Linked DNA regions of Homo sapiens: region 1 is linked to region 2. The links come from fine-mapping of genetic effects on plasma protein levels. A gene starts in region 2. The other region holds a variant in brackets. All regions are shown on one strand. Distances are between the middles of the regions.

Evidence for each region. PIP is the chance, under the fine-mapping model, that this variant and not a neighbour inherited with it causes the effect. The UK Biobank Pharma Proteomics Project read protein levels with antibody pairs (Olink). The fine-mapping took linkage between variants from a reference panel, not from the people measured, so its PIPs are less certain.
Region 1: its variant is fine-mapped to the plasma level of the ADAM15 protein (UK Biobank, PIP above 0.99).

What each region holds. Positions count from the first base shown.
Region 1 is chr1:155,904,942-155,910,588 of GRCh38, reverse strand. It overlaps RIT1 (Ras like without CAAX 1), which reads left to right. Exons shown (of 6, transcript NM_006912.6): 3 at 83-139. Among named protein-coding and RNA genes, the nearest start is that of RIT1, 3.6 kb to the left of the region's middle. The variant G/C (reference allele first, on the strand shown) is at 2,711.
Region 2 is chr1:155,039,697-155,055,742 of GRCh38, reverse strand. ADAM15 (ADAM metallopeptidase domain 15) reads right to left here and starts at 4,427. Exons shown (of 23, transcript NM_207197.3): 1 at 4,278-4,427; 2 at 2,966-3,072; 3 at 2,250-2,326; 4 at 1,755-1,833; 5 at 1,517-1,593; 6 at 1,237-1,429. The coding sequence starts at 4,356. It overlaps DCST1 (DC-STAMP domain containing 1), which reads right to left. Exons shown (of 17, transcript NM_152494.4): 6 at 15,119-15,258; 7 at 14,130-14,346; 8 at 13,886-14,029; 9 at 12,887-13,008; 10 at 12,234-12,391; 11 at 9,751-9,850; 12 at 9,523-9,618; 13 at 9,257-9,383; 14 at 8,431-8,547; 15 at 7,814-7,956; 16 at 7,573-7,686; 17 at 4,813-5,126. The coding sequence ends at 4,875. DCST1-AS1 (DCST1 antisense RNA 1) reads left to right here. Exons shown (of 4, transcript NR_040773.1): 2 at 6,382-6,474; 3 at 9,588-9,783; 4 at 9,890-10,552. ADAM15-EFNA4 (ADAM15-EFNA4 readthrough) reads right to left here and starts at 4,427. Exons shown (of 26, transcript NR_176418.1): 1 at 4,278-4,427; 2 at 2,966-3,072; 3 at 2,250-2,326; 4 at 1,755-1,833; 5 at 1,517-1,593; 6 at 1,237-1,429. RefSeq lists a silencer at 4,263-4,722 and an enhancer at 5,193-5,252.

The sequences.
Region 1 (5,647 bases), 860 kb before region 2:
TGCTATCTTGCAATGTTAATACTTAAAATTCTCTCTGTGGGTCACCTTTGTGAGGATTTGACTTTTATTTCTTCTTTTGAAGCCATGACCATGCAGTTCATCAGCCACCGATTCCCAGAAGATCATGATCCCACCATTGGTAAGCCAGATCATCACTTATGTTTCCAAATATACCCCATAAAAATATCTTAATGAATATCAGTAGTTTCTAACTATTTATATTTTGAGGCTTTTTTGGAGTCTAATTCAGATTTATTTAGAAACAAGGGTATCAGCAGTTGGTAAGCAACTGAATATTTCTTTTTTTTTCAGACTTTATGTCATAAGCCATCTTTAGTCTTTGTCTCTTACTGAACATTAATGGGACAACTCTCTTTGTTGTATTTTTTTATGGTTGTATACAGGCCACTTAACGAAGCCTTTTCTTGCTGTCACTTCTCTAAGGGTATGACTTGAGACTCGCTCTGTAACTGTGAGTCAGCTGGTTTGAACTTCCACAAAAGGAAGCAGAGAAACAAGTAGAGCCAGGCTGCTGAACTCTTACAACCCAGACATGCCAAGCCTGGACATCTTGCACTTGGAGCTCTTGGTTTACTTCCTTATACCTTAAGTTCATTACGTAGTAATGTCTTCTCCCATGTCTGTCTGTTGTTTTTTTTTTTTTTTTGAGATGGAGTCTCGCACTGTCTCCCAGGCTGGAGGGCAATGGTGCGATCTCCGGTCACTGTAACCTCCGCCTCCCGGGTTCAAGCAATTCTCCTGCCTCAGCCTCCTGAGTAGCTGGGATTACAGGCATCTGCCACCACACCCGGCTAATTTTTGTATTTTTAGTAGAGATGGGATTTCACTATGTTGGCCAGGCTGGTCTCAAACTCCTGACCTCAAGTAATCCATCCACCTCAGCCTCGAAAAGTACTGGGATTACAGGCGTGAGCCACTGTGCCTAGCCCTCCGATGTCTTTTATGGTCCTTAACTCTTGTTGCAGAACGCTAATAGAGTAAAAAAGTCATTTTGTTTGCTTTGACTTTTTTATTTTTTAATTGCTAATCTCTACAAAGACTAAGAACATTACTGTCATTCCTAAACCATAAGGAAGCAGGTTTGATTCTAAGGGTTTATATCCTAATATGAAAGAAAAATGGATGTGGGAATGGGAGAGGGCACAGAAAGTCAGCTGTACTGTTATTTTCTTTTTTTGTTTTTTTTTTTGGAGACGGTGTCTCACCCTGTTGCCCGGGCTGGAGTGCGGTGGCACAATCTCGGCTCACTACAAGCTCCACCTCCCAGGTTCATGCCATTCTCCTGCCTCAGCCTCCCGAGTATCTGGGACTACAGGCGCCCGCCACCAAGCCCGGCTAATTTTTTTTTGTATTTTTAGTAGAGATGGGATTTCACCGTGTTAGCCAGGATGGTCTCAATCTCCTGACCTCGTGATCTGCCCACCTCGGACTCCCAAAGTGCTGGGATTACAGGCGTGACCACTGCGCCGGGCCTTATTATTTTCAGTATGTGACACTCTTTGCCATGATCCTAGTTCTCTAGGAAGGATTTCCATTGGGTCAGGCCTCTGCTGCTCTGTTTCCCGCAAAGCCAATAATGTTTTGTGGTGGCCCAGCTTTGATATGGTCATTTCATAGAGCACATGATTCCAGGGATGGGAAAAATAGAAAAAGTCTTGACTTTTTCATGTACTATATCAAATTTAGAACACTGTTCAGAGATTCAGGCCAGGCGCGGTGGCTCATGCCTGTAATCCCAGCACTTTGAGAGGTCGAGGCGGGTGGAGCACCTGAGGTCAGGAGTTCGAGACCAGCCTGGCCAACATGGTGAAACCCCATCTCTACTAAAAATACCAAAACTAGCCGGGCGTGGTGCTGGGTGCCTGTAATCCCAGCTACTGCGGGGGCTGAGGCAGGAGAATTGCTTGAACCTGGGAGGCGGAGGTTGCAGTGAGCCGAGATAGTGCCATCACACTCCAGCCTGGGGGATAAGAGCAAGCTTTTGTCTCAAAAAAAAAAAAAAAAATTGTTCAGAGATTCAAATTATGGCGGGAGTTCTAGGAATAAAATGAATTTAGGGCTTACGCATATGTACTTGAGAACTCCAAAAGCATCTTTTCCTTTCTTTTTTTTTGAGACAGAGTCTGACTCTGTCATCCAGGCTGGAGTGCAGTGGCGCCGTCTTGGCTCACTGCAAGCTCCGCCTCCCGGGTTCACGCCATTCTCCTGCCTCAGCCTCCTGAGTAGCTGGGACTACAGGGGCCCATCACCACGCCCGGCTAATTTTTTGTACCTTTAGTAGAGACAGGGTTTCACTGTGTTAGCCAGGATGGTCTCGATCTCCTGACCTCGTGATCTGTCTGCCTTGGCCTCCCAAAGTGCTGGGATTACAGGCGTGAGCCACCGTGCCCGGCCGCGTCTTTCCCTTTCTTTAAAGTAAAACTCAAATACTCGTCTCCTGTAAGAGTTATCTGTATTTTTTTTTTTGTTTTTTTTTTTTAGATGGAGTCTCACTGTCGCCCAGGCTAGAGTGCAGTGGCATGATCTCGGCTCACTGCAGGCTCCGCCCCCCCGGGGTTCATGCCATTCTCCTGCCTCAGGCTCCAGCGTAGCTGGGACTACAGGCACCCGCCACCTCGCCTGGCTAATTTTTTGTATTTTTAGTAGAGACGGGGTTTCACCGTGTTAGCCAGGATGGTCTCGATCTCCT[G/C]ACCTTGTGATCCGTCCGCCTCGGCCTCCCAAAGTGCTGGGATTACAGGCGTGAGCCACCGCATCCGGCCAAGTTATCTGTTTTAATCAATTTTCCTCCAGTTAACTACTCTCCTGGCAATATTATCTGATTCAACAGCAAATACTTATGTCTTCTGAGTTTCTATTATGTGCCAAGCACTGCTTACCCTCAGGGTACAGTGGTGATCAAAAAGATGAGGTTTCTGTTCTTGAGTTTCTAATTTAGTGCATTTGATTTCAAGCTCTGGCTGTAAACTCAGAAAAACTTTACATTGTAACTGGTAGAGATATAAAAGCATACAAGGCCGGGTGCGGAGGCTTACGCCTGTAATCCTGAGCCTGCAATCCTGTAATCGAAGCACTTTAGGAGGCCAAGGCACCTGAGGTCAGGAGTTCAAGACCAGCCTGGCCAACATGGTAAAACCCCATCTCTACTGAAAATACAAAAATTAGCTGGGCGTGTTACTGCTGCATGCCTGTAATCCCAGCTACTCAGGAAGCTGAGGTGGGAGAATTCCTTGAACCCAGAAGGCAGAGGTTGCAGTGAGCCGAGATTGCACCACTGCACTCCGCCCTGAGCGACAGAGTGAGACTTTGCCTCAAAAAAAAAAAAAAAAAGCATATGAATGTGTGCATATGTATATATAAATTATATACACAAGCGCATGTGTATGTGTAGCTAAAATATTATGAAACTTTACCTCACTACATCTGGTGCACTCTGATATTTTCTTTTCTTTTCTTTTTTTTTGAGACAGGGTCTCACTCTGTTGCCCATGCTGGAGTGCAGTGTTGTGATCTTGGCTCACTGCAGCCTGGACCTCCTGGGTTCAGGTGATCCTCCCGCCTCACCCTACCAAATACCTGGGACTGCAGGCGTAGGCCACTAAGCCCAGCTAATATTTTTGGATTTTTAGTAGAGATGAGGTCTCGCTCTATTGCCCAGGCTGGTCTCAAACTCCTGAGCGCAAGTGATCCTCCCACCTGGACCTCCCAAAGCACTGAGATTACAGGCGTGAGAGCCACTGTACCTCACCCACTCTGGTATTTTCTTTCTTTTTTTTTCTTTTTTTCTTTTTTTTTTTTTTTTTTTTTTGAGACGGAGAATTTCACTCCTGTTGCCCAGGCTAGAGTCCAGTGGCACAATCTTGGCTCACTGCAACCTCCACCTCCCAGTTCAAGCGATTCTCCTGCCTCAGCCTCCCAAGTAGCTGGGATTACAGGCGCCTGTGACCACATCCAGATAATTTTTGTATTTTTAGTAGAGATGGGGTTTCACCACATTAGCCAGGCTGGTCTTGAACTCCTGACCTCAGGTGATCCACCCGCCTCAGCCTCCCAAAGTGCTGGGATTACAGGCATGAACCACTGTGCCTGGCCTGGTATTTTCTATTTTTATTTAGGTTTCTGCTTGTTTATTTTAATGCTGGTCCCGGCCCATTAAGTAGATTTCACAACTCACTAATCCTAATGAATAATTGAGAAGCATTGATTTAATGAGCTCTTCATCTTTGAGGAAGAGACAGAAGCAGGAATTCAAGAAAAAATGTTAAAAGGAAATACATTGAGATGTAAGCAGCAGTTGTTAAGTGAATGAAATATTGCGTGGCTTTTTTTTTCTTTTTAGTTTTCTATATTTTCCAAGGTTACTATAGTAATATGCATAAAGAAATTTGCTTTCAGAAAAGAGAAATTACGAAACTGTGGATTATTTAGAAAATAGTCAGTTAGACCGGGTGCAGTGGCTCACGCCTGTAATCCCAACACTTTGGGAGGCTGAGGCAGGTGGATCATTTGAGGTCAGGCGTTCAAGACCAGCCTGGCCAACATGGTGAAACCCTGTCTATACTAAAAATACAAAAATTAGCCGGGCAATAGTGGCATGTGCCTGTAATCCCAGCTACTCAGGAGGCTGAGGCAGGAGAATCCCTTGAGCCTGGGAGGCAGAAGTTGTGGTGAGCCGAGATCATGCCACTGCACTCCAGTCTGGGTGATAGAGTGAGAGCCTGTCTCAAAAAAAAAAAAAATAGTGAATTATATATTTTTTTCCTTTTTTGTAGTATTGAGGAGGAAGTATAACACATGGTTAATAATGCTTTTCAGTTCAGCAATCTTGGATTTTAATCCTCATTCTGTCACTAATTAACTAATTTAGAGAAGACATTAATATTTTCAAGTTGAATTTTCTTTAGCTGTAAAATGGAGGTAATAATGCCTACTTCATTGGATTATTGTGATTATTGAAGAATTAATATATATAAGTTACTTAGTATAATGTCTGGTAGATAATAACAATTTAATAAATGGTAAAGTTACTTTTCAGGCCTAATTTTTTTTTTCCCCTAAGAGATGGGGTCTCGGCTGAGTGCAGTGGCCCACACCTGTAATACCAGCACTTTGGGAGGCCAAGGCAGGAGGATTGTTTCAACCCAGGAGTTCGAGACTAGCCTGGACAACATTGCAAAATCCTATGTCTACCAAAAATACAAAAAAATTAGCCAGACATGGTGGTAGCACGCCTGTAGTTCCAGCTACTTGGGAGGCCAAGGTGGGAGAATCACTGGAGCCTGGGAAGTCAAGGCTACAGTGAACCGAAATTGCACCACTGCACTCCAGCCTGGGTGACAGTGAGACCCTGTCTCAAGAAAAAAAAAAAAAGATGAGCTGTTGCTGTGTTGCCCAGGCTGGTCTTGAACTCCTGGGCTCAAACAATACTCCTGTCTCAGTCTCCCAAGTAGCTGGGATTATAGGCAGTCACCACTGTGCCCAGATAGCCTAATTTTTTTAAGAAAGACATCTTCTCAGAATCCTTTTTTAGCTTAGAATTGTAGGTGAAATCTTCAGCTGTGAATAAACTACATCATCACCTATGTGGAAAAAAAAACTTCAGTTGAAGACTCAGTTTATGTATCTCAGT
Region 2 (16,046 bases):
AGCAGCTGTGCCGGGCTGACCAAGAGGCAGCCACTCCTACTCTGTGGGTCAAATAGGAGGGTGAAGAGCCCATTTTACAGATGAGCCACTGAAGGCCAGAGGGCCCAGGAACTTGCCAAGGAGGACCAGGAAGTAGATAATGAAGGTTGGAGTAGACCCCTGCTTTTCTGGCTCCAAACTCAGTGGTTTTTTTCAAATTTTTAAAAAACAGTAATTTAGCTGGGTGCGGTGGCTCACGCCTGTAATCTCAGCACTTTGGGAGGACAAGGCGGGTGGATCATGAGGTCAGGAGATCGAGACCATCCTGGATAACACGGTGAAACCCTGTCTGTACTAAAAAATACAAAACATTAGCCGGGTGTAGTGGCGGGCGCCTGTAGTCCCAGCTACTCGGGAGGCTGAGGCAAGAGAATGGCGTGAACCTGGGAGGCGGAGCTTGCAGTGAGCCGAGATCATGCCACTGCACTCCAGCCTGGGAGACAGAGCGAGACTCTGTCTCAAATAATAATAATAATAATAATAATTTTTAAAAATCCCAATAACAACTCTTGTCACTTACCATAGGTCTGGCATAGTTTTAAGCACTTTACATCTATATGGACTTATTTAATCTTCCCAGCAACTCTATGCAGCAAGTAGTTTTATTATCTTCATTTTACAAATTAGGAAATTGGGTTTATATTGCTTCATCATTGGTAACTATGTATTATCTATAACCAAGTGAGAGCTCTCTGCAAATGGGATCATAAGACAGATGAAGAGCCAAATACAACTAATAAATGGATAGGCCATTTATTAGTTGTAGGGCCTCGGGCAAACCACCTAATCTGTCTCAGCTAGATTTTATTTTATTTTATTTTTATTTTATTTTTTGAGACGAGGTCTCACTCTTTCACCCAGGCTGGTGTGTAGTGGCTCGATCTCGGCCCACTGAAACCTCTGCCTCCTGGGCTCAAGCGATTCTTCCACTTCGGCCTCCTGAGTGGCTGGAACTACGGGTGCACGCCACCATGCCCAGATACTTTTTGTAAGGTTTCGTCATTTTAAAATAGAGCTATTGATAGCACCTACCTCCTAGGTATGGGAGGAGTACACGAGCTAATGTTCACAAAGTGCCCAGCATGTGGAAAGTGCTCCATTCGCAGGAGCTGTTGTTACTGTGCACACATAGCTCTAAGTGTCTGGGGATCAGCCCTCAAGACAACCAAAGCCCACCCCCCTGCCATTCATCCTCACCCGGCGAATGTGGCGCTGTCCCAGGGGGTGCTCTGGTGGCTTCTGAGTGTGTACAGATTCCCGCCAGCTCAGGGCACAGGTGTGGCCTGGCAGGTGGAGATCTTGGATTCGCGAAATAATGGGAGGACCCTGAAGGTCCCCAGGCCCCTGCTCCAGGGTATAGCTTCTCTCTGGGGTCAGGACCACCAAGCCTCTAAGAAAAAAGAAAGTCAGAGAACATTTCAGCTCCATGCCTGGGTCTCCTTACTTTCTCTACTGTCATTAAATCCGCCCAGTATACCTGAGCCCAGAGCAGGTGCAGATGGACACCCAGGAGCCTGCATATCCCCGCACTCTTCCCTGGTAGCAGCAGTTCTCCTGCAGCATGGGAACAACATTAGTGCTGTCTCAGAGAGCACACCAGGACTGGAACTGAGGAGCCTAGCTTGACGGTAAAAATATGCAGTGTCCTCTCACCTTCCAGCCACCCCCTCCCTCTTTCCCCTAAGCCAAAAATGGCACAAGAGGGCCTGACTCACCAAAGTGTGTCCCTCACTGACCACCCGAGTGCCATCGGGCTGGTACCACACCAGGGTTGGGCGGCCTGGGACCAACTCCCTGTGGAGTGAAGAAAAAGAAGGCAGTGCTAAAGCCACTTCCCAGGTCGTGCATTGACAAGCAGAGGCTTGAAGGTGGTTGTGGGGCTGGGGACCAGGCAACCCCCGCAGCCAACTTTTCCACTCCTGACCCCGGGGCAGCAAAGTATACTGGTTGGGCCACTGACTCTGTTAGTTTATTTGAATTCCAATCTGGTTTTCACCACATACTAGCTGTGTGACCTGGGGCAAGTTATTTAATCTCTCTGTGCCTTGACTTCCTCATGTATAAAGTGAGGACAATAATACATGATAGTATATCCCTTATAGGGCTGTTATGAGGATTAAATGAGCACAAGCACTTAGTACCTGGCACATAATAAATGCTATACAAGTTGTTGGCCATGTGGTCACTGTTATTGCCACCATCACTATTACCTATTCTGTAGCAGCTCCAGGATATGACTGTCACCGTCCAGCTCCAACTTGATCCTCAGGGGCTCAGGCAGACTGGTCTGTGGGCACCAGAGGGCAGGTCACCTCCCTAGACCTGTCCACAACTCCCAGCCTCTCTAACCAGAAAACCTCAGGCCCACAGAAGAGCACCAGCAATTAGATCACTGGTGGGGGGATCCCAGGGGAGGGGCCAGGAAACCCTGCCTGGCCTGGAGCATTGTTCTGGGGGGTTGTGTGCGGAGGTCAAGGAAGGTATCTGAGCCACCCCTTCTCGGCTTCCTGCCCAGAGAGGAAGCACCGTGTAGGACCCAGCACAAGCCCCAGCCCTTCCTCTGACTCAGCTTTAGAATGGGGTGGGGGGGGGGGGGTTTGGTAAGGTCCTGACTCTTTCCAAATCCCCCCACTGAGAAAACCGACAACATGAGATGAAGAAAGCAAGTTTGGCTTCACAATTTCCCCAGTGGAGATGGATGGGTTGGGTGGGGCTGAGGCAGACAGATACACGTGTGTGCAGAGGGAGAGGGAGATAAGTGAAGCCAGGTGCTGGGGTGTGGTGGGAGAGGCAGCTGGGCCTGGGATAGACCCACTACAGTGAGCTCTACCCACCAGCTCCTCAGCCAAGCTTTGGCTTTGAGACACCTGGCTATACCGGGGCGTGTGTGGATTCGTTTATTTATTAGAGGGGAGTGAGAGCTCACCTGAAGCACCTTTTTGAGGCTAATTGGGAGATCGTCCTGAAGGACCTGGGGCTCCAAGGGCTCCCTCGGGGCCTTCTCTGACTCTGCCTGCTGCTCCTCAGTGCCACCTGCAGGTCCCAGGACACCCCAAGACAGTACTGAGGGAATCGACAGCAGGGCTGGGGGTGACAGGTGCCCTCAGATCCACCAGCTCCCAGCCCATCAAGACCCTTAGGTACCTGAGGGGCTTCCACATTGCATGCTGAGACTTAAAGAAGAATACTGGAAGGAGAGGGTGTCTCTCTAATTTATGGCTTTCCACCCACCAACCCATTCACAAGTCCCCAAGAAAGACTTTCGGCTTGCGCAGCCTGTGGCCCTCCTTGTCCCCTTCCGGCCAATCCCAGGTTCTCACAGGACCCTCCCCGGTTCCCACTCCCTCCCAATCACTCTCCCCCCACTTCAGGAACGCCCCCTCTCGAGACTGAGCTAAGCCTTGTGGCCGGGTGCCCGCTCACCCTCCCCTTCGCTCACATCGGAGATGCCAGGAACGCCCATTTCTGGGTGAGCAGTGCAAACACCCCCACCTCCCTAAACACCCTCATGCCCAGTCAGGCACACCCGCTGCCTACAGCCTCTGCTTCCTCCTCGAGCACCCCCCACCCCCCCAACACACAATGGCCCTCTCTCCTCCGGACACTCCACCCGCGCCTGCCCTCTCGGTCCCGGCCCAAGACAGCAGCGGGAAGTGAAAGTTCCAAGGAGGAGTTGGTGTCCCAGCCTCTTTCCTGGCCAATTCTCCCTTCTCCTGGCTCATCTCGGGCCCCTCCCGCTCGGCCAGGCACTGGTGGCAACAGCACCAGGGTGAGGAGTGCCTGGCGGCCCCAGGCCTGGAATAGAGGCTAGAGAGAATCCTCTTCACTAAACCCTACAAGCCATGCCCGCTCAGCGCCCTGGCACCGGGTCGAACGGTTAGCTAGGCCCCAGAGCAGCGAAGATGCCAGTCCTGGGGAGCAGCGACCCTCTCATCACGATCTTGAAGTGGCGCTGGACAGGCCCCTCGGTACCTGGTACCTGAGCCTGAAAGTGTCCGCAGGGACCGCGCAGAGGATGACCAGGCAGGAGGCAGGGGGCGCCGGCATCCCCCCTCCTTCTCTTTTCACCCCATCGCCAAGTCACCGGGCCCTAGGCCCAGGACAGCGGACCAGGGCGGGCCGCGCTCTGGCTGGGCTCTCCCAGGGTCTCCGTCCGGCCCCATTACCCTAATGCCTTCCGACTTTCCTGCACCTCCCTCCCAGTCCGCCCCCCGACCCACTCCAGGCGGAGGACTCACCTATATTTGGGAGCGGCCAGGAAGGCAGAGGGCTGCCCGCGCCCAGGAGCCCCAGGGCCCAGAGCAGCGCCAGCCGCATGGCAGCGGCGCTCCGGGCCGGGCGAGGGCAGCAAGTGCGGAACAGCGCGCGGAGGAGCGGCCGGCGGCCAGGTCGCCTCGGAGAACCCAGCAGCGCCGCGCGGCCACCAGGCCCCGCCCCGGCCCGCCCCCTCCCACCCGGCCCCAAGCCAAGCTCCGCCCCCGGCAAAGCCCGCCCCGCTGCGCGCCGGGTGCCTCGGGAGCGGGGACACCGCCCACTACGCCCGCGCTGCTCAGCGCTACCGCTTCCCCGCAACTGTGCGGAGTGGGAGCCGGTGCCCGGTCCGACCGGCTTGGGCGGCGCGCCTTCACCCGGCGCCAGGTCCGGACCCCTCCCTAGTAGCTTCGCGGCCTCCCTGCCTCCTGTGCGCGGCCTGGCTCGGAGAGGTCGGGCGGGCAGGCTTTCCCGACTGCAGGCGAGGCAGTGCGCGGCTCACCCCAGTCCCCGACCCACGTGAAGCGTACAGGGCATTTTATTAACCGGGAAGGACGGTGCGGAAGAGCGAGCAGGACGCCTCTTCACCCCGCGTAGGCAGTGTCGTCGTTGCTGTCACTAAAGGCGGAGGAAGAGAGCTCTTCGCGGGGCGTGCAGACCGGGCACCGCTGCCGCATGTCGTCCCAGCACGACCAGCAGTACACGGCCTCGCAGTCCAGCGTCCGGCACACGTAGGACTCGGGCGTCTCGGGTGCCTGGCACACCACGCAGCGCCGGCACAGCCAGCGGCGCAGGAGCGGGCAGCCGCGGTGCAGGATATCCGCCAGCGGGTGGCGCTGTTGGGAGGTGGGCGTTAGCGCCAGCCCGGGAGCGAGGCGGGAAAGAAGGGGAACTGGACAGCGTTTCCTGTCTGAAGTCGCCAGGCCTGACAATTCCCGCGTGTTGGAGGAGGCTGGGTTGGACAAAGGAAACCCCTGGAGGGCGAGGGTGCCTCCCTCCCCAACTCTGTGATGGAGAATGGGAGGATGCACCCTCCAGGCTCTCTCCAAGCGGATATCAGCCACAACTCTCATTTGCACTTTCCTGTAAATCATCTTATTTGGTTCTCACAGTGAGGCTGAGAAGTGAGCAGGCCAGATCGACTATCACTGTTGCTATCCCCACTTTACAGTTGAGAAAGGTGAAGTGACTCTCAAAGTCACACAGATAGTAAACAATCCAACTTGGCTGGACCCCAGGGGCCCTGATTCCAAACCACAAACCTAGTTCACTATGCTCCCTGCCATCCCTCACGACATGTCTCTACACAGTTGTCAGGGATTTTCCACAGGCCACCTTACCCAGGAAGCAGCCACTCTTTGCCCAAGAAACTCCAGAGGCCCTGCTGCCTGCCAGACAGGCAGAACTCTTGGGCTTGGCCTTCAGAGCCTTCCCTCACCTGGTCCCTTTCTAGCCTCTTTCCTACTTTAGCCCTCCCTGAGAGCTGTCTCTTCTGAGCCAGTTTCTCCTGAGACTAGCCCTGGCACTTCGCATTCCCTGTGGACTGAGTCTTTGCACATTCTGCTTGGAATGACTGTCTGGCACATTTCCATCTGTGCATTCACATTCAGTTTGCTTCACGACCCTGTCAAGGAATCCCAGCATGTTCTTTTTTGTTTTTTGTTTTTCATTTTTTCACAACACATTCATTTGGCCCCTATTGTGTGTCATGGGGGCTGGGGGTATCCAGGCCCTAGGGAAAAAGCTAAGCAAACACAGTCTCACTTTTATGAACTTTGTTAGGACTGATTAAATAAGAATGGCTGCCACTCATTGTTTATAATGTCAGGTCCTGTACTAAGATACTGTACATAAATTATTTCAATTCTAAATTAGCCGGGCGTGGTAGTGTGTGCCTGTAATCCCAGCTACTCGGGAAGCTGAGGCACGAGAATCGCTTGAACTGGGGAGGTGGAGGTTGCAGTGAGCCAAGATCACGCCACTGCACTCCAGCCTGGGCGACAGAGTGAGACTTAGTCTCAAAAAAAAAAAAAAATTCAATTCAATTGTCATGTAAGGCAGATAGTGTTATTATCATCTCCTTTTTTTCAGGTGAGAAAACTGATGCTTGGAGATGTGATCACTGCCCAGGGTCACCCAATGATAACATGCATGCATATGGAACTTGCTGCATGCCAGCACCATGTAAGTACAACTCATTTAATCCTTAAAACAACCAGATGGAGTAGTTAACCCCATTTTATGGAAGGCAAAAGCCCAGGCACAGCAGTTAAGTCATGTGCTCAAGGTCACACCGTTGTCATAGTAATGAGGGAAGGAGCCGGGATACACACTTAGGCCCTCTGGCACCGGAGTCCCACACCTGACCACCACTCTAGGCTGATCTCCAGTGAGCAGGCCTTACAGATCTCTCCAGTCTTGCCATTCTTCAGAGGGAGAAACTGAGGCTCAGTGAAGACCTTGGCCAAGGTGACACAACTTAATGAGGGAGTATGGACTGGAGTCTGCTTCCTCAGATTCCATGTGCCTTACCATGTGCCCCTGCATGAGGCCTTCCTGACTCCCAGCCCACCTGCCTCCTCCTGTCCCTTGAACTGCACTGAGCTTCTGGTCTGCAGCCCTCTGGTAGAAACTTTGGTTTTGCCTTGGGCCTCCTGTTTCTGTGCGGCCCTCTTGCTTTTCTATGAGCAGACTGTATTAAATCTCATTCTCCTTTTCTGCCTGCTTCCTAATGGTCCACTGAGTGTCTTAGGCTGGGCTGAATCCTGGGATTCAGAAACGGGCACAGCCCTGACCTTAGGAGCTGGATGGCTGGGGCCCTCAGCATGTGTTGCATCAGATTACACCGGGCTTGGCTGGGCTTGGTGGCTCACGCCTGTAATCCTAGGACTTTGGAAGGCTGAGGTGGGCAGATCACCTGAGGTCAGGAGTTTGAGACCAGCCTGGCCAACATGGTGAAACCCTGTCTCTACTAAAAATACAAAAAAATAGCTGGGCGTGATGGCGTGTGCCTGTAATCCTGGCTACTTGTGGAGTGGGGGGCTGAGATAGGATAATCGCTTGAACCTGGGAGGCAGAGGTTGCAGTGAGCCGAGATCGTGCCACTGCACTCCAGCCTGGGCGACACAGTGAGATTCCATCTCAAAAAATAAAAAGAACTTACCAGGCTCGAGTAGGCCTGCGACCATTGGTGGGTGCTGGGTGGACTGAAGGGAGCTGCCCCTTGCCTGCTGTACTTAGACCCAGCCAGGAGCTGGCAGCAGCACTTACGCCTGGACTTACCGGAGCCTTCTGCTGTCGCTCCCGCCTCAGGATAGCGGCCCTCCTGAGTTTGGTGAAGGCTGCTCTTTTCTTCAATAGGTCATTGTAGAGGAACAGGATCCGCTTCTTCTCTCGCTGGGGGCAGGAAGGGGGTCAATGATAGAGAAAGGCATCCCCCAAATATGGAGTTGGTAGGGAGCTGGGTGGTGTGTGTGTGTGTGTGCAGGTGTGTAGGGGTGGAGAGGTCTGGGGAGGGGCAAACCTTGGGGAAGTAGAAGGCTGCGATGACCCTCCGGAGTCGGTAGCCAAAAGCCTGTAACAGGCAGAGACACACTAACAGGCCAATCGGTACTGCAGCTCTCCAGTAGGCCCTGGCATCCAGGCCCACAGGCTGGGGCAGGCAGGCTAGGGGAGGGGCAGGCCAGGGGTCTGGTCAGGACCAGCCAAGGGGCAGGGCAGCCCTGGGTTGGACTTCCCATCCCAGTGGGAGGTGCAGTCCTCTGATTCCCCTGCTCTCCTCCTGCCTGCCCCTCACTGCAGAACTGCCCTGTCAGTACTGTAGCCGCTGGGCCCAATGTGGCACAGATCTTGCAGATTTCTATCTTGACTGAATGTCCTGTTGGACAGTGCTGCTCTGGAGGGCTGGGGCCCCCTAGCCACAAGACCCTGGCCTCCAGACTCCTCTGACTGAAGCTGGTCATGCTCCCCTTTTTCAAGCCTGCCCAGATGTGTTCCCTGCTCCGATTTCCCCAGCTCAAGCGCTCCAACCCCCATCTCTCCACACCCAAGGCCCAGGCCCCTAACTCTTTACCTTGGAGTCTTTTGACCCTTGCCCCACCGCCCTCGATTCCTCTGATCCAAACTTTCAGCATCACTCACGCATGTTGTTTGATTCCATCACTGTCTCTGAGGAGGTGTTCAGGGCCCCAATGGTTTTTCGAAGAAGCCGGGCTAGCATGGAGTCTCCCCCGACCTTCACCTCCAGTTTATGACTGCCTGCGGCCAGGAGGACAGGTAGGGAAGTCAGGGCAGGTGGAGAAATCAGGAATGTGTTAAGGGGGTGGATGTCAGGGAGGGGTCAAGACACAGAAATGCTTCTCAGCTGCCTGAGTCTTTCTGTCCCTTCCTGAATCCTAACCCCTCCCTGCTCCCAGTTGTAAGTGTAAAGGGGTACAGAGCCCCCCTCCCCTGCTGTGAGAGCTGTCAGGTTGCAGGGCTGTCATTTGACCTTGAGGAGGACAGGGAGGGGCTGAATCACAGAAAGGGGAAAAGAACAGGCAGAAGGATGGCTGGCACAGTGGCACACACCTGTAATCCCAGCACTTTGGGTGGCCGAGGCAGGTGGATCACTTGAGGTCAGGAGTTCGAGACCAGCCTGACCAACATGGTGAAACTCTGTCTCTACTAAAAATAGAAAAATTAGCTGGCCGTGGTGGCTCACACCTGTAATCTCAGCTACTCAAGAGGCTGAGGCAGGAGAACTGCTTGAACCTGGGAGGTGGAGGTTGCAGTGAGCTGAGATTGTGCCAATGCACTCCTCCAGCCTGGGTGACAGAGCGAGACTCTTTGTCTCAAAAAAAAAAAAAAAAAAGAGGCAGAAGGACGAGGCACAGTTGGAAGAACTAGGGTGGGGTGGCTGTGCAGGCATTGGAGTTCTCCAGAGGGTGTCTCTTGGGCCTGGAATGTGTCTGGGGGATGGGCTTACTGCGGAAGGAGTACTGCAGGAAGGAGTGGTGGCGGATGGTGTCGAAGATGGAGTAGAGAGCCCAGTCCAAGCCACACAGCACCACCAGCAGCAGCAGAATGGGCAGTGTCTCCAGGAGCTCCCTCACCTGGCCAAGGAGCAGGAGGGGCAGAGCTGGGCAGTGCCATCTGCCTGGGCACGGAGCACTCTCTGGTGCCTTTTACCCTCCACCCTCACCTTCAGGCCTGTCTTTGCACCCAGGAGTCCGCTCCCCATGCTGTCCTCACCACATTGCTCATTTCTGAGGCCTGGATGGTGGGCTTGCAAGGGAAGATGACGGTTTTCTCCTCAGCTTTGCGGAGTGGCAGCAGAGTCCGTTTGCCCTGGAAAACAAATGTCCACACAGTTAGGAAGCCCAAGGGCCCTCTGCCCTTTCCTCTCTGCCTTCCTGGAGCATGAACCCACACAGGGCACACAGCAGCAAGGCATCCCCGGGCAGTGCCGTGCCCACTCACCAGCTTCTTCCTGCGGTCATCGATCTGGCAGAAGTAGGTACTGATGTAGATGTTGTCAAAACGAATGTCATGGTTATAGCTGTCCATGTAGGAGAAAGACCTGTGGGTGGATGGGCAGGGATGTCTCCATCTCTTCCAGGTTCTCCTCATCTATCCCCAAACATGGGCTTCCTTGAGGCACAGTCATTCAACCAACCAGCCAGCATTCATTGAGCACCATCTATGTCCTGGGCACTGCTAGGGGATGGTGATAACAGGGAGAAGACTCTGTCCCTGCCTTCCAATTGTGTAGAGGAAGACATCCCCCTACATGATGGGTGAGACATAGCAGAAGTGAGTAGGGGATGAGGTGGGGGCTCAGAGGAGGGCATGGTCAGCCTGTCTGGGAGGGAGTTGCATGTGTGCATCTGAGGTAGGGACAGGCATGCATCTTACAGGATGAATATCGAGCAGAGTTACAGAGAGGGGGAAACTCCTTGAGGTTTCAGGAATCACCTAATCCACTGTGACTCACAAATTCCTGCCTCTTGGCTTTGCCTGCAGCATATCTCCTGGAAGTGTGCTGGGGCAAAACTCATCCCAGACCACCATCTCCATCCTCCCCCAATACACCCTGGCTCTCCCTGGCTACCCTTGAGCACGGTGCACGTGTGCATGGGTGCATGCCTGCATATATAGCTATCCCCCATGTATTTCCCAAAGCCCTACATAATGCTTCAGTTTGCTAAGGAAAAAATGTTAATTACTGCAAATGTGTTTAAAACTGTAAAAGTACATTAAACAAACTCTGTAAAGTGTGAAACATTAGTTTCAATGCTATTGCTTCTGGGGCCCTGTAAAAATCCACATCTTTGCCTTTAAAACTACTGTAAGTGCAAAGACATACTGTGAGTGCCCTCTTGTGGAGAGGCTCACAGAGGTGGTGCCTGGGCTTCCTGAGCCAGGGCCTGCCCTCCCGCCAGCTGTCCTTTCAGTGCATGACCTCACCCAGCTTGAAAGCCTGGAAGTAGCTTTTGACTCTGTGCCTCCTTCCTTCCCTCCACAAGCTGGCTCTGAGCCTCGCTGCACCTTTCCCCTTCCCCCACCATCTCAAGCCATCTTCCTGCCATGCTCTACCCGGGCCAGGCTCCCTAACCTCCAACCCAGCCTGGCCTCCCGCCCTCCCTCCAGACTTCCTGAGGCCATCTTGCCACCACCGCCAGTTCCAGGTCTTCCTGCAGGGCTTTCCAGACTGTTCTGGTCATGCCCACTTCAGTTCTCCAGGCCAGCCTCTGCCCTCTGCATCCCATGGATACCAGGAGCCTTACGCAAGGGACACCCTTCTTTCCTTGACCACCGTTCCGCATCTGCGGCCATTTGGAGCCCAGTTATTGCCCTTCCAAGGGGCACCTTCCCAGCTCCCATACACGTCTCAAAAGCCAATCCATAGAATGGCCCTTGAACCATCTCTGTCTTGTGGGTGTCTCATGATCCCAACTAGATCATTAGCTTTTTTTTTTTTTTTTTTTTTTTGAGACAAGCTCTCACTCTGACACCAGGCTGGAATGCAGAATGCAGTGGCACAATCACAGCTCACTGCAGCTTCGACCTCCCAGTGATTCTCCTGCCTCAGCCTCCCAAGTAGCTGGGACTACAGGCATGTGCCCCACACCTGGCTGATTTTGTTCATTTTTTGTAGAGACGAGGTCTCACTGTGTTACCCAGGCTGGTCTCAAACACCTCAACTCAAGCCATCCTCCCACCTCGGCTTCCCAAAATGTTGGGATTACAGGAGTGAGCCGCCATGCCTGGCGATCATGAGCTTATTGGGGGCAGGAATAGAGCTCCTTCATCTTTGTCTTCCCATGGGGCCCTAGATACACACATACCCACTCACTTGCAGTCACTCTAGGCCCCCCACATAGGGGCAGACAGAGCAACAGCCCTGTGGCAGCCCTCACCCAAGCCCTGCCCATCTCAGGTGTTTGGGAGTGGAGATGGGAAATAGAGGGTCCAGAGACCAGCAGGGGAGCTAGAGCAGAGCAAGGCCCGGGGCAGCCCAGCTGGACACTGGGCTGGGTGGGGTTGAGGACTTTGTTCTAAATGGAGGGAAAGTCGCTGCCAACGCAGCAGGCAGGAGAAAATGAAAGCAAAATGGAAAGATAAAAATGGCACAAAGTCAGAGCCAAGGGGAATATGAAGGGCAAGAAAAAATCAAAAGTCAAAGCTAAACGTAAAAAAAAAAAATCAGTATTGGGATAAAGGCTGGAAGGAGGTGGATGAATGAAGACGGTTGGCCTTTTAAGGCAGTGGGAACATGGGTAATGTTCTTCTGACAAAATGTCCACTTTTCCTTTAACTTTGTGTAAACAAAGACAAAGGTAAATAATATTCAGATTCAGAGGTGAGGATAGGTGCTAGGGTTCCATCCTTACAGCCTCCCTCAGGGCAGGGCTCCAGTCCGGGGCAGAGGAGGGGCTGCTGGGGTGGGGACTATGGCTCACGCATGCAGGACCAGCAGGAAAGTGCAGGAGAGCAGCACGTGCAGCAGCCCCAGGGCCCACTCCAGCCGGGCCTCCTGGCGGTACACGTAGTCCCGCACCTCGGTGCTCACGCGCTCCCAGCTTGTGTTGAGCCCCAGCACCCCAGCCTGCTTCTCTTCCTGGTGGAGGGCACATGAGCAAACTCAGCCTGCGGCCACCTCGTCAGACCTGGGTCCCACCTCTTCATGACATCTGTTCCCCAGTACCCCACTTGTGTCCCTGGGGCCCTCCCAGGACCTCTAGGAGTTGTCACTTCCTTCTGCTCACCACCCTCCTGGACACAGTCTTGCTCCCCTGCACCTACATCAGCTGACATCATCTCATATCTGGCTGATAGCTCCCACCCCAGGCCAAGTCTGCACAAACCACAGGCTTGGCACTGTCCCCTCCTCACCACCTTTCCCCTCCCCTGCCCATCTCAGGTGTTCGGGGGTGGAGATGGGAAACAGAGGGCCCCCTCAACACCAGCGACATTCCCCCTCCTTGTCCCCCTCCCTCACCCCTGGTCACCTCTTTCCTGTGCCCTCTCACTTGTCCTTCCTCTAGCTCTATTCCCTCATGCCCTCCTCCCACTCCCTATCTACCCCCCACCAACCCTCGCCCTTGCCTTCTACCTTGAAGTCAATATTGGCTGAAAATTCCCCATCCAGGCCACGAATAGACTGGTTGAGGGAGTCGTAGGTCTGCCCAAAGTTGCCTTCCACTGGGATGCGATTGCGGCACCAAACCTCCATCACTGGTGAACAGTGGACGGGGTCAGGGGCCTCCCCGGGCCTGTCCTCCAGGTGCAGGCCTGGCCTGCCTGTCCTCCTGTAGTCCTCCTCATCCTGCTTTTTTGTCTCTCTGCCCATGGCTTGCTACCACACCAATGCTGAGTCTTCCCCTCTCTGCTCTCTTTGGATCCTGCCCTCCAGGAACCAGACCTGAGTTCCCTCATTTTTGTCAATCTATCCTCAACCATAACAAACATCAGTAAGGAGAGCCAGCGTTTACAGAGCAGCTCCTCTGTGTGCCAGCTCTGCCACTGCCTTCACATACGTTAGCCCCATAAATCCTTAAAAGCCCTTAATGTGGCTGGGTGCGATGGCTCACACCTGTAATCCCAGCACTTTGGGAGGCTGAGGTGGGTGGATCACCTGAGGTTAAGAGTTCAAGACCAGCTTGGTCAACGTGGTGAAACCCCGTCTCTACTAAATATACAAAAATTAGCTGGGCATGGTGGCGGCCACCTGTAATCCCAGCTACTCAGGAGGCTGAGGCAGGAGAATCGCTTGAACCCGGGAGGCAGAGGTTGCGGTGAGCCGAGATTGCGCCACTGCACTCCAGTCTGGGTGACAAGAGTGAAGCACCCCGTCTCAAAAAAAAAAATTAATGCAAGAACTACTGTTATTCTGCCCATGCGCATCTTTCAGATGAAAAGCCACAGCTCAGAGCTTTGCTGTAACTCACCCTGCGTCACAGAGCTATTCAGCAGGTGGAGGGCTCTAAGGATGCTGTGGCCTCAGGGCCAAAACCCTCCTCATCTGTTGCTTTCCTGCCTGTCACCTACCAGTGGGTCCCAAGGACTCAGCTCCCTACCCCGATGCTCCCCACCCCTTTGCAACTGTGCAGACCCTTGGCAATGCCACAGAAGAACTTGAACTTCATAGGCAGGCAGAGCAGGTGGGTGAGGAGTGGGACCCAGATGTGCTTCATGCACTGTTCATGCTTGCGGTCAAACCAACGACGGCAGCTGAGTATGGCCTGGTTCACCACATCTGTAGGAAGGAGCAAGGGTGTCTGAGGTTCCCACATCTTGATCCACAATGCTGGCCCCACATCCCACCCCACCCTCCACTCCCCAGGGATACCCCTCACAGGAGCAACGCAGCTTGGTCTTCAGCTCATACATCTTCTGTGTCGACAGGTGGAGTCTGGAGGCTGGGGCTTGGCGGGCCTCCCTGCCCTGGGCTGTCTCCCCTGAGTCCATGGTATCCTCAGGCGTGTAGCCCGTCTCACTATTCACCTGGGCATCCAGGTCCTCAAAAGTGGCGGAGATGTTCCGAGTCTCTGCTCTCAGCAATTCTTTGCTACTCTGGGATTGGAGGTGGAGGGAGGAAAGGGTGAGGGCTGGGGCTTTAGAACTTCTGCTGCCTGAGGGCCTGTCCTCCCCCAGTAGCCAAGCTTTGGGTTCTCACCCCAGGCCGACAGGGAGCCTAGGCCCTGAGACACAGCCTCTCACCTCAAATTCCCGGCTGTCCATTGCCCTTGGGAGCCCCCCCACCAGCTGCCTTGTCTGATGCCACATGTCCTGGCTCTGCGTACCTCCCAGACTCTCAGCTCTTCCTCAGTCCTCCCATCCCAGACCCTTCCTGGTCAGTGGTTCCCCAGGTCCTTAGACCTTACCCTTCACCACTAGTCTCTGAGATCATTATGCCATCTGAATGCCCCCAACTTCCAAACCCCTCAGCCCCCATGTCCCCAACTCTCCAGCTCTCCAATTCTCCCAAACCCCCAGTCTCCAGCCTTCCAATACCCAATTCTTGAATACTCTTGTCTTCGAAACTTCTGAGCTACTCAAGGCCAAAGCCCCCAAATTTCCTAGATATTCTAGTTCAGCTGTCCAGAGTACTGACCACTCAGGTATTAGGAAATGTGTATAGAGCATGTCCTAATGACTCAGGGGCTCTCCTGGCATTTAACACCAGGACCAGGGCACGTTCTGCAATGTTTGGGAATAGTTCTGCAAAAAATGCCAGTAGTATCCCCATTGGGAAACTGTAAATCCAGGGTGACAACTCCCAGCTCAAGTTAACTTGGCCCCAGGGAGAGGGACCCCCCAGGCTCTGCCTGTGCAGATTCCTGACCAGCAGGTCCTTGAACATGGCCCGTAAGGGGGCTGTGGAGATGCGCCAAGCTGCGCGGGTGTTGTTGATCTGCAGCTCCACGGTGCAGCCCAGCGATGCGATCACGTTGTTGAGATTGTGTCGCAGATTGGCTACTGGCCCTGGAGAAAGAGGCCCTGGTTGGTCACCTCCCTGTATAACCAGCACTTTCTCAAACCCGCTCAGCTTCCCTCTGCAAATAGTGCCCATCGCCTAGAACTATACAGTGGTGGGGCCGAGAGCCTATGAAAGGTCAACTTGTTCAACCTTTGATTTTTTTCACTGTTTTTTTTTTTTTTTTTTTGAGACGGAGTCTCCCTCTGTTGCCCAGGCTGGAGTGCAGTGGCTCGATCTCTGCTCATTGCAACCTCCGCCTCCCGGGCTCAAGCGATTCTCCTGCCTCAGCCTCCTGAGCAGCTGGGATTACAGGCACACGCCACCATGTCTGGCTAATTTTTTGGTATTTTTAGTAGAGACGGGGTTTCAGCATGTTGGTCAGGCTGGTGTCGAACTCCTGACTTCGTGATCCGCCCGCTTCGGCCTCCCACAGTTCTGGGATTACAGGTGAGCCACCGTGCCTGGCCTTTTTTTTTTTTTTTTTTTTTTTTTTTTTTTTGAGACGGAGTCTTGCTCTGTCACCCAGGCTGGAGTGCAATGGCGCAATCTCGGCTCACTGCAGGCTCCGCCTCCCAGGTTCAAGTGATTCTCCTGTCTCAGCCTCCCGAATAGCTGGGACTATAGGTGTGCACCACCATGCCTGGCTAATTTTTGCATTTTTAGTAGAGATGGGGTTTCACCATGGCTGGTCTTGAACTCCTGACCTCAGGTGATCCACCCACCTCAGCCTCCCAAAGTGCAGGGATTACAGGCATGAACCACCGTGCCTGGCCAATGTTTTCACTCTTATAAA